Regions from separate parts of the Homo sapiens genome. Here all the other regions are reported to be linked to region 4. The links are microRNA targets in miRTarBase. Many come from high-throughput screens and were not tested one by one. Region 4 holds a microRNA gene; each other region holds the end of a gene's coding sequence.

Region 1 (3,143 bases), not on the chromosome of region 4:
GACTTATCTAGGCCATCACTTTCTATGTCACCACACCTGGTACCTATCTCACTTCCACTATTAAAATACACTTTAGTTTGTATTTGTTTCCCCTACAAGACTAGTAAGATTCCTGAAAAACTTGGCCTGTGTCCCTAGTGTCAAGCGGGACATTTAAGTAAGGATTTTTGATAAATGTTTAACAGACATTGTCTGTGGAATCTACAGCTAGAATTTATCTGATATGGAAGTGCCAAGGATTAATCAATCCCTAGAATGAAGCAGCTCATATGACATCTGTGCCCTTTTAAAAATGGCACTGTTTGGCTGTGCTTGTTGTTGTCAATGCAGAGTGCTCCTGCACCATTGCTGTATGGACACACCACCACGTTGGCTTTCATTTAGTCTTTTTGTTTTATTCAAATGTCAAAATGTAAGTTCCAAGATACAAATTATGTTTGATTTAAAAACATCGACTATGCTTTGTTAACAACTTCCAAAGCCAAATGTAAGTTGTTGTGACTAAAATGCCTCCCCAGTACATTTCTGGAGGATTAACCTTAATATGTTTAGCAGCTAGTCTGATTTCCACTCTACAAAAAGGAAAATGATGCTATAAGGGAAAGATAATGAACAAAGTTATAATATGTAAGACTTCCTGGGAAGAACTTGAACCATTACTAGGGAGACCAAGGAGAGGTGTTTCTGTTCCATACTATAGCAACCAGCCTTAACACTCTGTAATACAAAGTGCATTTCTGGTCCTACCCAGCCATAAATACCATACATCCCTTTTATTAATTATATCAAAGAAAGCCCAACTCTTCATCAACAAGATTTAGAATTTCCTAATAGCTTTAGTTTTTCCCTAAAAAAAACTGTGTAAAAGGAAAGCTCGAGTCTATAAACCAAAAAAAAAAACCCACAAATATTTACATGTACTCTGATTTAAACAATTTCAAATGAGATTAAACTGAATGAATATAGAACTTGTACCACCATTATAGAAGGAAAGAAAAAAAGCTTAAAAGGTACCCAAATATTTTAATATTTATGGAATTAAATGATACAATTTTCATTAAGACCCCAAATATCCCACCACTTTTTAGCTTTGCTGTATAATGAAGGTTAGTAACTTATATGTTAGTGTGAACACATTTACTTTGGCTGATAGCAAAACATAGATTTTTTAAAATGTTCTAAGAAGCCAAAGAATTAGACCAAAATGTTCAGCACCAAAAAACAAAACAAAAAAACTAGCTCAATACTTCAGGTTAAATACACAATATCAAGAAATTTTATTTAGGTCAGCACATGGCTGTTACTATGACTGATACTGCATGCTATTTCTAGAATTAGATATGTATCTTTCTGGCTGGATGCGGTGGCTCATGCCCGTAATTCTAGCACTTTCAGAGGCCAAGGTGGCCGATTGCCTGAGCTCAGGAGAGACCAGCCTGGGCAACATGGCGAAACCCCGTCTCTACTAAAAATACAAAAAATTAGCCAGGTGTGGTGGTGCACGCCTGTAGTCCCAGCTACTCAGGAGGCTGAGGCATGAGTATCGCTTGAACCTGGGACTCAGAGGTTGCAGTGAGCCAAGATTGTGGCACTGTACTCCAGCCTGGGTGACACAGCGAGACTCTGTCTCAAAAAAATAAAATAAAATAGATATATAACTTTCTGAAGATTTAAGCCAGACTTCAATTCCATGTACTCACCCATAGTACTAAAATGGATTAAAGATGGTAAATAAGGCCGGGTGTGGTGGCTTACGCCTGCAATCCCAGCACTTTGGGAGGCTGAGGCCAGCAGATCACAAGGTCAGGAGTTACAGACTAGCCTGGCCAACAGGGTGAAACCCTGTCTCTACTAAAAATACAAAAATTAGCCAGGTGTGGTGGTGCGTGCCTATAATCCCAGCTACTTGGAAGGCTGAGGCAGGAAAATTGCTTGAACCTGGGAGGCGGAGGTTGCAGTGAGCCAAGATCGCACCACTGCACTTCAGCTTGGGACAGCGTGAGACTCCGCTCAATTAAAAAAAAAAAAAAAAAAAAGATGGTAAATAAATCAGACAACTTGGTAAGAAAATGGCCTTTTTTACAGAACCAATTGGGAAGTTAGTGTCATGCATTAGCAGATAAGACTAGGAATACAGCTAAACCAATTATCAAAATATAGTTCTTCAGGGTATTTTTCAATGAAATGTTTAACTACTTGAAAACTACCTGGTCCAATTTTTTGTTTTCGCCCTGAGACGGAGTCTCACTTTGTCGCCCAGGCTGGAGTGCAGTGGCACAACCTCAGCTCACTGTAAACTCTGCCCTCCGAGTTCAAGCGATTCTCCTGCCTCAGCCTCCCGAGTAGCTGGGATTACAGGCACCTGCCACGGCACCCAGCTAATTTTTCATATTTTTAGTAGAGATGGGGTTTCACCATCTTGGCCAGGCTGGTCTTGAACTCCTGACCTCGTGATCCACCCGCCTTGGCCTCCCAAAGTGCTGGGATTACAGGCGTGAGCCACCACGCCCGGCCTACCTGGTCCAATTTTTAAGATGAATAAAATTCCAATATTTTCAGAAACACATGTGGGTAAAAAAGGTAACACTAAAGAATGGTATCTCAATATTCAATTTTAAAGAATTTATTTTCCCATTTGTAGAGTAACATTATTGTAAAATCTACAGTTATCGCAATACCTGCATTGCTTAAAAGAATTCCTAAGAATTTTGTTAAAGCATATTTTTTTTAAAAAACTGAACCAAAATAATGTACATTTTATCTCTAAACATTGTGTCATTAAAGTCCATATAACATCTTCCGTAAAATCAATGTGATGTTACAATTATATACATGATCTGATTCTTCTCCTAAAGGCTTCTCTGACCATGTATGATATCCAAGATAGATCCAATGCCTTTAATATCAGACTGTAGAGACAATTATGATCCTAAACAAAAGAAGGAAAAGCTGTATATACAAGACAGCAATATGACAGTTTAGCTGTTTGCAGCATCTGCTTGGCGGGGCCATCCTTCTTCTTCAACTCCAGAGTCATACTCCTCTTCAGAGGATTCTTTTGTTGGAGCCCTACAATGAAAAGCCATGTTTGTTTTTTTAAAATAAAAAATGGAGGTAAACATGATCTTTAAAATCAAAACAGC
Region 2 (3,171 bases), not on the chromosome of region 4:
ACACTGCCCTTCCTGGTCCCCACTGCCCTTCCTGGTCCCCACTGCCCTTCCTGGTACCTTCTTGGCCATGCTGACCTTCCTCCCGCCCTACCCCCGGCAACCCCTAGTCCACTCTCCCTTTGTATAATTGTGTCATTTCAAGAATGTCACGTAAATGGAACGATACAGTGTGCAGCTTTTTGGCATTCACTGTCTTCATTTGGCATCGTTCTCTGGAGACCTGTTGGGGCTGGTGCCCGTCCGTGATTTGCTCCCTGTCCCTGCTGAGCAGTGTTCGTGTTACATAAGCTTTTGTAGAGCATTGAGCATGGGCCTGGGATCTGCCTTGTGTTGTGTGCTCTGTCTCAGGTTTTTCTGTCTTCATCTTTTCTCTCCTGTAGTCTAAGGTTGTGGGTGACAGAGAGAACGGCAGTGACAACCTCCCTTCCTCAGCGGGGAGTGGTGACAAGCCCCTGTCGGATCCCGCACCTTTCTAAGCCTGTGGTTGCTTCACCCGCTGCAGAGCACACGCAACCCAGCCTCAGCATCACAGCCGCAGCTCTGTTCAGCGGAGCAGCCAGCCAGGGCGGATGAGCAGAGCCGGCCCTGAGGACAGTCCTGCCCATCCACGCGGAGATGTGGCTGCCGCGTTTGCATGAATTTGAAGAACACAGGCTTGTACACAGATGTTTTACACTCACGTTTGTAGATGAAACAGATCACTGTGCTGTCCTTCCTAGGGGTGCAGGAAGTGGACAGGGCGGAGGGTTTGAAAGAATATTGAGCCAAAGCCCAGGCTCCCTTTGGGAATCATGTTAGCCCATCAGAATGTTGAAGGATTGAAGAGTTCTAAGCATAAAATAAGTGGCATTTTCTGACTTCTTCCTCCTCCTCCTTCCCTGACTCACAGAAGGAATGCAATCACCCAGCAAGTCCTACCTGTTACGCAATTTTTTATCTCAAAATGCCGAACGAGAAAACTGTCCATTTTCTGAGACCCCCAGAAAGGAAACTGACCCTCAGCAGCTGCCTGATTGTTACGCGAATCTAGCTTTAACGGAAGCAAATTCATTATTTTTTAAATGCAGTGGACTTTTCAAAAAGTTTAAATTAGGCAAAGCAGCTTTAGCCTCATAGAATATTATTTCTTTGGACTCAAGCTGAAATACAAGCCTTACATTGCCTTATGCTTTATTTCTTTCTAATTTTTATATGTATATAGATGAGGGTTCCTTAATGGTTGTGAGCATTGTGTGGAATTTTACACCTGGCCTGCGTGGCAGCCTCTTCCAGTTGAGGTGTTTTATGTCACGCACACTCCATCCCAGTGTACAAAACCTGCTTCTCTTCTCAACCGTGGCAGCTCCCGCTGGCTCCTATGCCCTGCCCTAAAGGGCTCTTGAGCCTCTGGGAATGGGAGGGGCCAAGAGAAGGAAAACCCTGTCTTTAGCACCCTTTAAAAGAACTGTGCCCCCCTTCTCAGTGCTGCCTTTGCATGGGCCTGGCCCGGCTCACATTCGTCAGTGACTCCAACCCTCCTGCTTGCTGTACTTGGGATGAAACGACCCCACAGGTCAGGTGGAGGGTGGGGCGTGGGCATCAGCCAGGATTGCCGTTACAGTCTTTTTCTCAGGAGCTACAAAGATCTCTTCCTGTTACTAAATAGTCGCACCCCAGCAGCCTCTCTCGCACACCGGGGCCCTGCATGTCAGATGGCGTGGTCTGCAGGGGGAGCTCTGTGCCTTAGTGGCTCTTGGCAGGACACTGAGGGCCTGCCTGTGGTGTGCCCGGCTCTGCCACTCCCGGGAGGGGAAGGGCTGCTCAGCTCAAGGTGTCCTGTTCGGTAGAGCAAGTGTCCTCTGACAGCCGTGTCCCCGGACAGTTCAGACACCCTTGGGGATGGCACTCCACACACGACAGAGATGCAGGGGCCAGGGAAGCCCAGCGCTCGGTGCCCTTCGTCCAGGGTTAAAATCGGCCTGTGGGGTGTGGTGAGAAGGCAGGTTGTGCGGGTGTTGACCGATGTATCTTTTCCTTAAAGTTATTATAATAATGGGTAATTTGTCAATAAAGCATTCCTTTGGGGGAAAGTCCGCCTCGGCTTGTGTGATGTATCGTTCGGGACCATGATAAGAGTGGTAAATGAACTGGCACACGGTACCTGCCCTAATGAGTCCGCACCCTTGGGAGAGGCAGGCAGGGGACAGTGCTAAAGACAAAGGGCAGGTCCTCAATGCTGGGACAAGGGGAGCCAGCTGTGAGGGGAGAATGGTATATGGCCAACCTGTGAGGTCAGACCCAGCGTCTTGGGAAGAGGAGTTGAAACTGAGCCCCAGGAGGCGGAGGAGGAGCTCACCAGGCTCCAGGTTGGGCCGGGAGCTCCAGAGGCTTCGCCAGCTGCCCCTGCAAGCACTGAGCTGCTGCTGAGCACACCTGTAGTCCCCGCCATTCTGGAGGGTGAGGCAGATCACCTGAGCCCAGGAGTTCAGGACCAGCCTGGGCAGCATACCGGGATTCCATCTCAACTAAAAACAGTAGGCTGGGTGTGGTGGCTCATGTCTGTAAGCTCAGGACTTTGGAAGGCCAAGATGGGAGGATCACTTGAGCCTGGGAGTTTGACACCAGCTTGAGCATCGTAGCCAGGCCCTGACTCTACAAAAAAGTGAAATAATTAGCCGAGTGTGGTGGTTCACACCTGTAATCCCAGCTGCTCAGGAGGCTGAGGTAGGAGAATCATTTGAACCCGGGAGGTGGAGGTTGCAGTTAGCCGAGATCACGCCATTGCACTCCGGCCTGGGCGATAAAGCGAGACTCTGTCTCAAAAAAAAAAAAAAAAAAGAAAAAGAAAAAGGAAAAGACCCTTGAGGGGGAACCTCCACTCTGCCCCTGGTCTGGCGCTTTGCATGTATCCATTCCTAGTCTTTGGAGTTCCCACTGGAAAACTAGTGGGAGCACCAGTCTTCCTTTGGAGGTCAGAGGTAGCTGGGCTCACCCCAGATGTAAGAGCAGGGAAAGTTAGGTGACCTCGAATTGTATGGTACATAAGCCCCAATACAGCAGGGAGCTGGTACCAATAAAGGGTGAAATGCACTATTGCCGCCTGCAGTCAAGATTTACACTAATTTATTTTGGAATGAGTTCATGTGTTCTTCATTTATTGAACAGATACTGTAACTGCCCTGCGGGTAAGAG
Region 3 (3,000 bases), not on the chromosome of region 4:
TCCCCTGCTCTTGAAAACCCTCAATGGTCAAGAAGCTTTGTCAAATCCTCATGAGCCTTGCACAGTGCCAGGTGCTGTACCTAATGTAAGTGCCTCATTTTACTCTAATAAAAACTAAGTATTAGGCTGATCTACAGGAGGAAATGAGATTCACAGAGATTAAGGCAACAGTCAAAAGACACAGAACTAGTAGGCAACAGACCTGGAATTCGACCCTGTGTCAGGGTGGTTCCAAATGCAAGCTCTTTCTACTAAACTGCCAGCCTCCCAGGTGCCCAGAAGTGATCCTGGCCCTCCTCCTCTACCCTGATGTCCTGACCTCCTGGTGTGCTGACAGTGCTGGGTGAACAGAGAGCACCGCTGCCTGTGGAATCTGGCCCTGCGGAATACCGGCTCCCCACAGAACCAGGAGGCCCTTCAAGAAGGAAGGAAAAGAGGGGCCTGGGAAAGCCAGGAGTAGACGTGACAGACCCTGACGTCAGGAAACAGGCCAAGGGCATAAACACCCAACCCCTGGGGACATTCCAGCCAGCAAAATGTCCCTCTCTAAATTTTTAAAACCCCCCATCCCTGAGGGAGGCAGCGTAGAAACAGAGAAGAGAAGGCAACAGGAAGCTGCAGCCACTTCCTTTGAGAAGAGGTGGACAGTGAGCAAGAGTTTAGGGGGAAAGAAGCTGAAAAAGGACAGTACCGGTCCAGGGGTTGGAACAGCTGGAGGACTCCCTGGTACCACAGCACAAATGGGGCTGGGTGCCCCAGGAACAAGAACATACACACATACCCCACCTTCCACACACCTTTTTTCTGTAAACAGACCTCATTTCTCGGACCACAGAAGTGGACACATGGCTGAGCTGTTCCCTGCCTTGGGAACAAGCCAATCTGCACAGAAGCAGAAGCAGCACAGAGAGCAGAGGCAGGGGGACGGGAAACACATAGGGAAAAGACAGCAGGGGAGGCCTGAAGAGAGAAGGAACAATGGTGAGACAGGAGGAGGAAGGGAGGGAGTAGGGGAAGGAGAGAGAGAGAAAGAGGGAAACAGAGATAGAGTGCGCATGTGCTAGCTGACTGACCGTGGAGCCATGGATCTAGGTGTTCCTGAGGCCAGTTCCATGTCCCAAGCATGGTGATGTAAATTAATGCATTCTGCCTCTCGGCTTATGCTATTCGAAATTAGGCTGTATCATTCACAGTCCAAAGAGTTACTATTTCAGTTGTATATAAAGAACCTTAAAAATCTATAAAGGCACCTCCAAAATCACATCAAAGCTGGAAAAACTAAGGAAACCAAAGTTGGTTCTCTTCTTTCTTTTTTTGAGACGCAGGTCTTGCTCTGTCGTCCAGGCTGGCCTCGACTTCTCAGGCTCAAGCAACCCACCTCAGCCTCAGTAGCTGGGACTACAAGTGCACACCACCGTTTGACTAATGAAAAAAAAATTTTCTTGGAGTCTTTCTCAAAGAAGCTATTCAAATGAAAGTATATTTATTTTTATAAATGTTTCCTCCAGTAAGTTTATGTTTGACTGTACTTAAGAAACAGGAAAAAAAAAAAACCTGTAATTAAACTTGTGCCAAGATTAACCAACAGCCTCTACTGCTTGTTTCCCATTATTACAGGTTGGGTATCCCTTATCTGAAATGCTTGGGACCAGAAGTCTTTTAGACTTTGGTTTTTTTGTGTGTTTTGGAATATCTGTATTATATTTACTAGTCAAGTATCCCAAATCTGAAAATCCAAAACCTGAAAAGCTCTAATGAGCATTTTCCTCCAATGTCATGTCAGTGCTTGATATGGTTTTGCTCTGTGTCCCCACACAAATCTCATGTCAAATTGTAATCTTCGGTGTTGGAGGAGGGGCCTGGAGGGAGGTGACTGAAACATGGGGGCAGACTTCCCCCTTGCTATTCTGTGTTAGTGAGTTCTTGGAGATCTGGTGTTTGAAAGTGTGCAGCATCTGCCCCTTTGCCCTCCTCCTCTGGCTCTAGCCACGCAGGACATACCTGCTTCCGCTTCACCTTCTGCCACGATTGTAAGCTTCCCAGGGCCTCCACAGCCATGCTTCCTGTACCACCTGTAGAACTGTGAGTCAATTAAACCTCTTTTCTTTACTTATAAATTACCCAGTTTCAGGTAGTTCTTTATAGCAGTGCAAGAACAGATAAATACAGTGCTCAAACAGTTTTAGATTTTCGGATTTGGGATGCTCTCAACCTGCACCATTAGATTATACTCTCTTGGTATAAATTATTTAAAAACAAATCCCAAACTAATACATAAACAAGCCGAACAAACCTATCAGCATAAACTTATAAACACAAACACAGGCAATACACAGACACCAGGTAAAACAGGGATGGTATTTCTGGATGGTTTAATCATGAATGGCGGTAGGCAGTGTAAGAAAAAAGTTCCTAGAGCATGATAAACCTTGGTTTCTGGCACAGGATAAACCTTTCATTTCATGGTGTACATTTCACAATATTAAAAAAACCCCAGCCTGGTTTTCATGATTAACGCCGTGGGGAAAGGACAATGTTTCCAGGGAGCAACGACTCGCAAGCACACCCCTGGGGCTGTGCGGTGGCCGTCGGCGGGGCCAGCTTCAAAGTCCAACCCACAAGGCACAGGTTTTCAAATCTTTACCTCTGTGTACAAGAACGTACATGAACTTTAAAAACGTGTGTTTCCTCGTCTGTGTTTAACACCCTAACGATGATCAGTTTGGGGGAGACGTACCCCTCCCTAATCACAGGTAGGACCACTTCCCAAATCAATGAAACGACCGTCCTCTTTTGTGTCTTGACTTCAGGTGTCCGGCCGAACGACGGAGTCTTTTCCTTTCTTGTCGATGCAGTTTCTCAGCCTCCTGTTGCTTCTTCTGCTGTTCAGACTAAAAGAGAAAATGAAATGAGTAGAGGGAAAGAGAGAAAATTCTATACCTCTTTTCTGGTAACCGTCAGGCTGCCAACAGTACCACCACCAATCTCAGAACTGCTGCC
Region 4 (3,000 bases):
ATGCCACCGAACTGTGCGCTTAAACATGGTTCCAATGGTAAATTTTTGGCCGGGCGCAGTGGCTCATGCCTGTAATCCCAGCACTGTGGGAGGCTGAGGCGGGCGAATCACTTGAGGTCAGGAGTTCGAGACCAGCCTGGCCAACATGGTGAAACCCAGACTCTACTAAATATATATATATATACAAAAATTAGCCAGACGTGGTGGCGGGCGCCTGTAATCCCAACTACTTGGGAGGCTGAGGCAGGAGAATCACCTGAACCTGGAAGGCGGAGGCTGCAGTGAGCCAAGATCATGCCACTATACCCCAGCCTGGGCGACAGAGGGAGACTCTGTCTTTTAAAAAAAAAAAAAAGGTAAATTTTCTGTTACATACATTTTATCACACACACACACACACACACACACGCACACACACACACAAAGAGGCAAGGGAGAAAGAACAGGCTTTGCAAAATGATTCTGCAAATGGCCAAATAGGAAGGATTTTCAGCTTTGTAGGCCGCATAGTCTCTGTTGCAACTACACAACTCTGCTCTTATAACACAAAAGCAACCACAGGTAATAAGATAAAAATGGGTGTGACCACGTCCCAATAAAACTATTAGTCAAAGCCGGCAGCGGACCACAGCAGGCCTGTGGACTGCAGTTTGCCAACTCCTAAGCGGTGTGGTTTGGCGTGTATGTTTATGAACAGAATGTCCCTGGAAAGTTGGTAACAGTGATGTCGCCAAAAAGGGGAACTGGGTGACCAGGCAGAGGAGGGAGAACCTTCATGTGTGGTCTTGGGTGCTTTCTATTTTGACCCTGTGAATGGGACCTATTCACCAAATTTGAAACAAACAAGAGAGAAAAAGAAAGCTTGAGGCCAGGCACGGTGGCTCACTGCCTGCAATCCCAGCACTTTGGGAGGCCGAGGCAGGCAGATCACGAGGTCAGGAGATCGAGACCATCCTGGTTAACGGTGAAACCCCGTCTCTACTAAAAATACAAAAAAATTAGCCAGGTGTGGTGGTAGACGCCTGTAGTCCCAGCTACTCGGGAGGCTGAGGCAGGAGAATGGCATGAACCCAGGAGGCAGAGCTTGCAGTGAACCGAGATCGAACCACTGCACTCCAGCCTGGGCAACAGAGCGATAAAAAAAACACCATGAGAAAAAGGAAGTTTGACAACTCTGCCTGTCAGGGCCTGGGGGTCAGAGACAGTTCCCTGGGCAGAGGCACTCAGGGGCACAAGGTGGTCGGTCTTAGAAAGATGCTCAGCAGTGAGCAGGAACAGACCCCAGAGGGGAGGCAGGAAGGCCAGGCCGGAGGCTAAGGGCCTCGCACACACAGCGCTGGCTGGACGGCTTCAAAGCCAGTCCGGGGGCCCCGGGAGGGGAGGAAAGGAGAGAGGAAGGGCTCGCCCCAGGACGCGAGGCTCACCCCAGCACCACGTTGGCGTAGAGTTCCCGCGCCGTCCTGGTCTCGCGCTTCCTGGAGATCTCCGCGTCGTACCAGAAGCCCCGCTCCTTGGGGTTGTCGGGGTTGTAGTTGAGCATGACCACCTGGCCCACCTCCAGGTCCTGCCACTTGATGATGGTGCGGGCGCGCGCTCGGACGTCCCTGGAGTTCATCTGGACCACGCCGTTCTCCGGGTAGCTGGGAGGAAAGCCCGGGCCTTAGACCCCGTGCTAAGACCAAGCCTCCTTCCCTCAATGGGAAACGAGCCGAGGTGGGACGGCCCCTCCCGACAGTGTGCAGAGGCCCCTCCCAACAGGCTTATATGCTGGTGTTGAGAACACACAGGTATATTAAGGCACATTCCAGGTACAAAATTGTTATGGGTTGCCCGTGTCCCCTGCAAAAAGAGATGTTCAAAGGCTGATCCCCAGTACCCACGAATAGGATTGTTTTTGGAAACAGGGTCTTTGTAGATAGAACCTTTGCAGATGAAATCATATTAAGATGAGATCACACTGCAGTAGGGTGGGCCCCAATCCAACAGGACTGGTGTCTTTAGAACAAGAGGAGAGGCCGGGCAAGGTGGCCCACGCCTGTAATCCCAGCACTTTGGGAGGCCGAAGCGGGAAGATCACCTGAGGTCAGGAGTTCAAGACCAGCCTGACCAACACGGTGAAACCCTGCCTCTACTAAAAATACAAAAATTAGCCAGGCATGGCCGGGCACGGTGGCTCATGCCTGTAATCCCAGCACTTTGGGAGGCTGAGGCAGGCAGATCATCTGAGGTCGGAAGTTGGAGACCAGCCAACATGGAGAAACCCCATCTCTACTAAAAATACAAAATTAGCCAGGCGTGGTGGCGCATGCCTGTAATCCCAGCTACTCGGGAGGCTGAGGCAGAATTGCTTGAACCCGGGAGGCAGAGGTTGCGGTGAGCCGAGATCGCGCCATTGACGCCAGCCTGGGCAACAAGAGTGAAACTCTGTCTCAAAAACAAAACAAAAACAAAAATTAGCTGGGCGCAGTGGTGCACGCCTGTAGTCCCAGCCACTTGGGAGGCTGAGGCAGGAGAATCGTTTGAACCCGGGAGATGGAGGGTGCAATGAGCCAAGATCACACCATTGCACTCCAGCCTGGGGGACAGAGTGAAACTGTCTCAAAAAAATAAAATAAGCTGGGCACAGTGGCTCACACCTGTAATCCCAACACTCTGGGAGGCTGAGGCGGGCGGAACACGAGGTCAGAAGTTTGAGACCAGCCTCACCTACATAGTGAAACCCCATCTCTTCTGAAAATACAAAAATTAGCCAGGCGTGGTGGCCACACACCTGTAATCCCAGCTACTTGGGAGGCTGAGGCAGGAGAATCGCTTGAACCTGGGAGGCGGAGGTTGCAGTGAGCTGAGACCACGCCATTGCACTCTAGCCTGAGTGACAGAGTAAGACTCTGTCTCGAAAAAATAAAATAAAAATAAAATAAAATAAAAATACAAACATTAGCTGGGTGTGGTGGCGGGCACCTGTAGTCCCAGCTACTCAGGAGGCTGAGGCAGGAGAAT

Evidence for each region. The annotated mature microRNA hsa-miR-4747-5p reads AGGGAAGGAGGCUUGGUCUUAG and lies in region 4 at 1,673-1,694, opposite strand. An mRNA with a match to its seed (bases 2 to 7 or 8) in the 3' UTR can be bound and repressed. Matches are read on the target gene's strand: a 7mer-m8 pairs with bases 2 to 8, a 7mer-A1 pairs with bases 2 to 7 and ends in A, and an 8mer does both.
Region 1: miRTarBase lists CLPX as a target of hsa-miR-4747-5p. Seed matches in the 3' UTR shown: 7mer-A1 at 2,093-2,099 and 7mer-A1 at 639-645.
Region 2: miRTarBase lists TPD52L2 as a target of hsa-miR-4747-5p. Seed matches in the 3' UTR shown: 7mer-m8 at 873-879.
Region 3: miRTarBase lists NOL10 as a target of hsa-miR-4747-5p. The part of its 3' UTR that is shown has no 7-base or 8-base seed match.

Annotation. Positions count from the first base shown.
Region 1 is chr15:65,147,845-65,150,987 of GRCh38, forward strand. CLPX (caseinolytic mitochondrial matrix peptidase chaperone subunit X) reads right to left here. Exons shown (of 14, transcript NM_006660.5): 14 at 375-3,069. The coding sequence ends at 2,979. Among named protein-coding and RNA genes, the nearest start is that of PDCD7, 16 kb to the left of the region's middle.
Region 2 is chr20:63,889,470-63,892,640 of GRCh38, forward strand. TPD52L2 (TPD52 like 2) reads left to right here. Exons shown (of 7, transcript NM_003288.4): 7 at 381-2,069. The coding sequence ends at 476. Among named protein-coding and RNA genes, the nearest start is that of DNAJC5, 4.1 kb to the right of the region's middle.
Region 3 is chr2:10,569,300-10,572,299 of GRCh38, forward strand. It overlaps NOL10 (nucleolar protein 10), which reads right to left. Exons shown (of 21, transcript NM_024894.4): 21 at 1,455-2,891. The coding sequence ends at 2,772. Among named protein-coding and RNA genes, the nearest start is that of NOL10, 120 kb to the right of the region's middle.
Region 4 is chr19:4,931,381-4,934,380 of GRCh38, reverse strand. MIR4747 (microRNA 4747) reads right to left here and starts at 1,694; the gene lies at 1,641-1,694. UHRF1 (ubiquitin like with PHD and ring finger domains 1) reads right to left here. Exons shown (of 17, transcript NM_001048201.3): 5 at 1,425-1,640.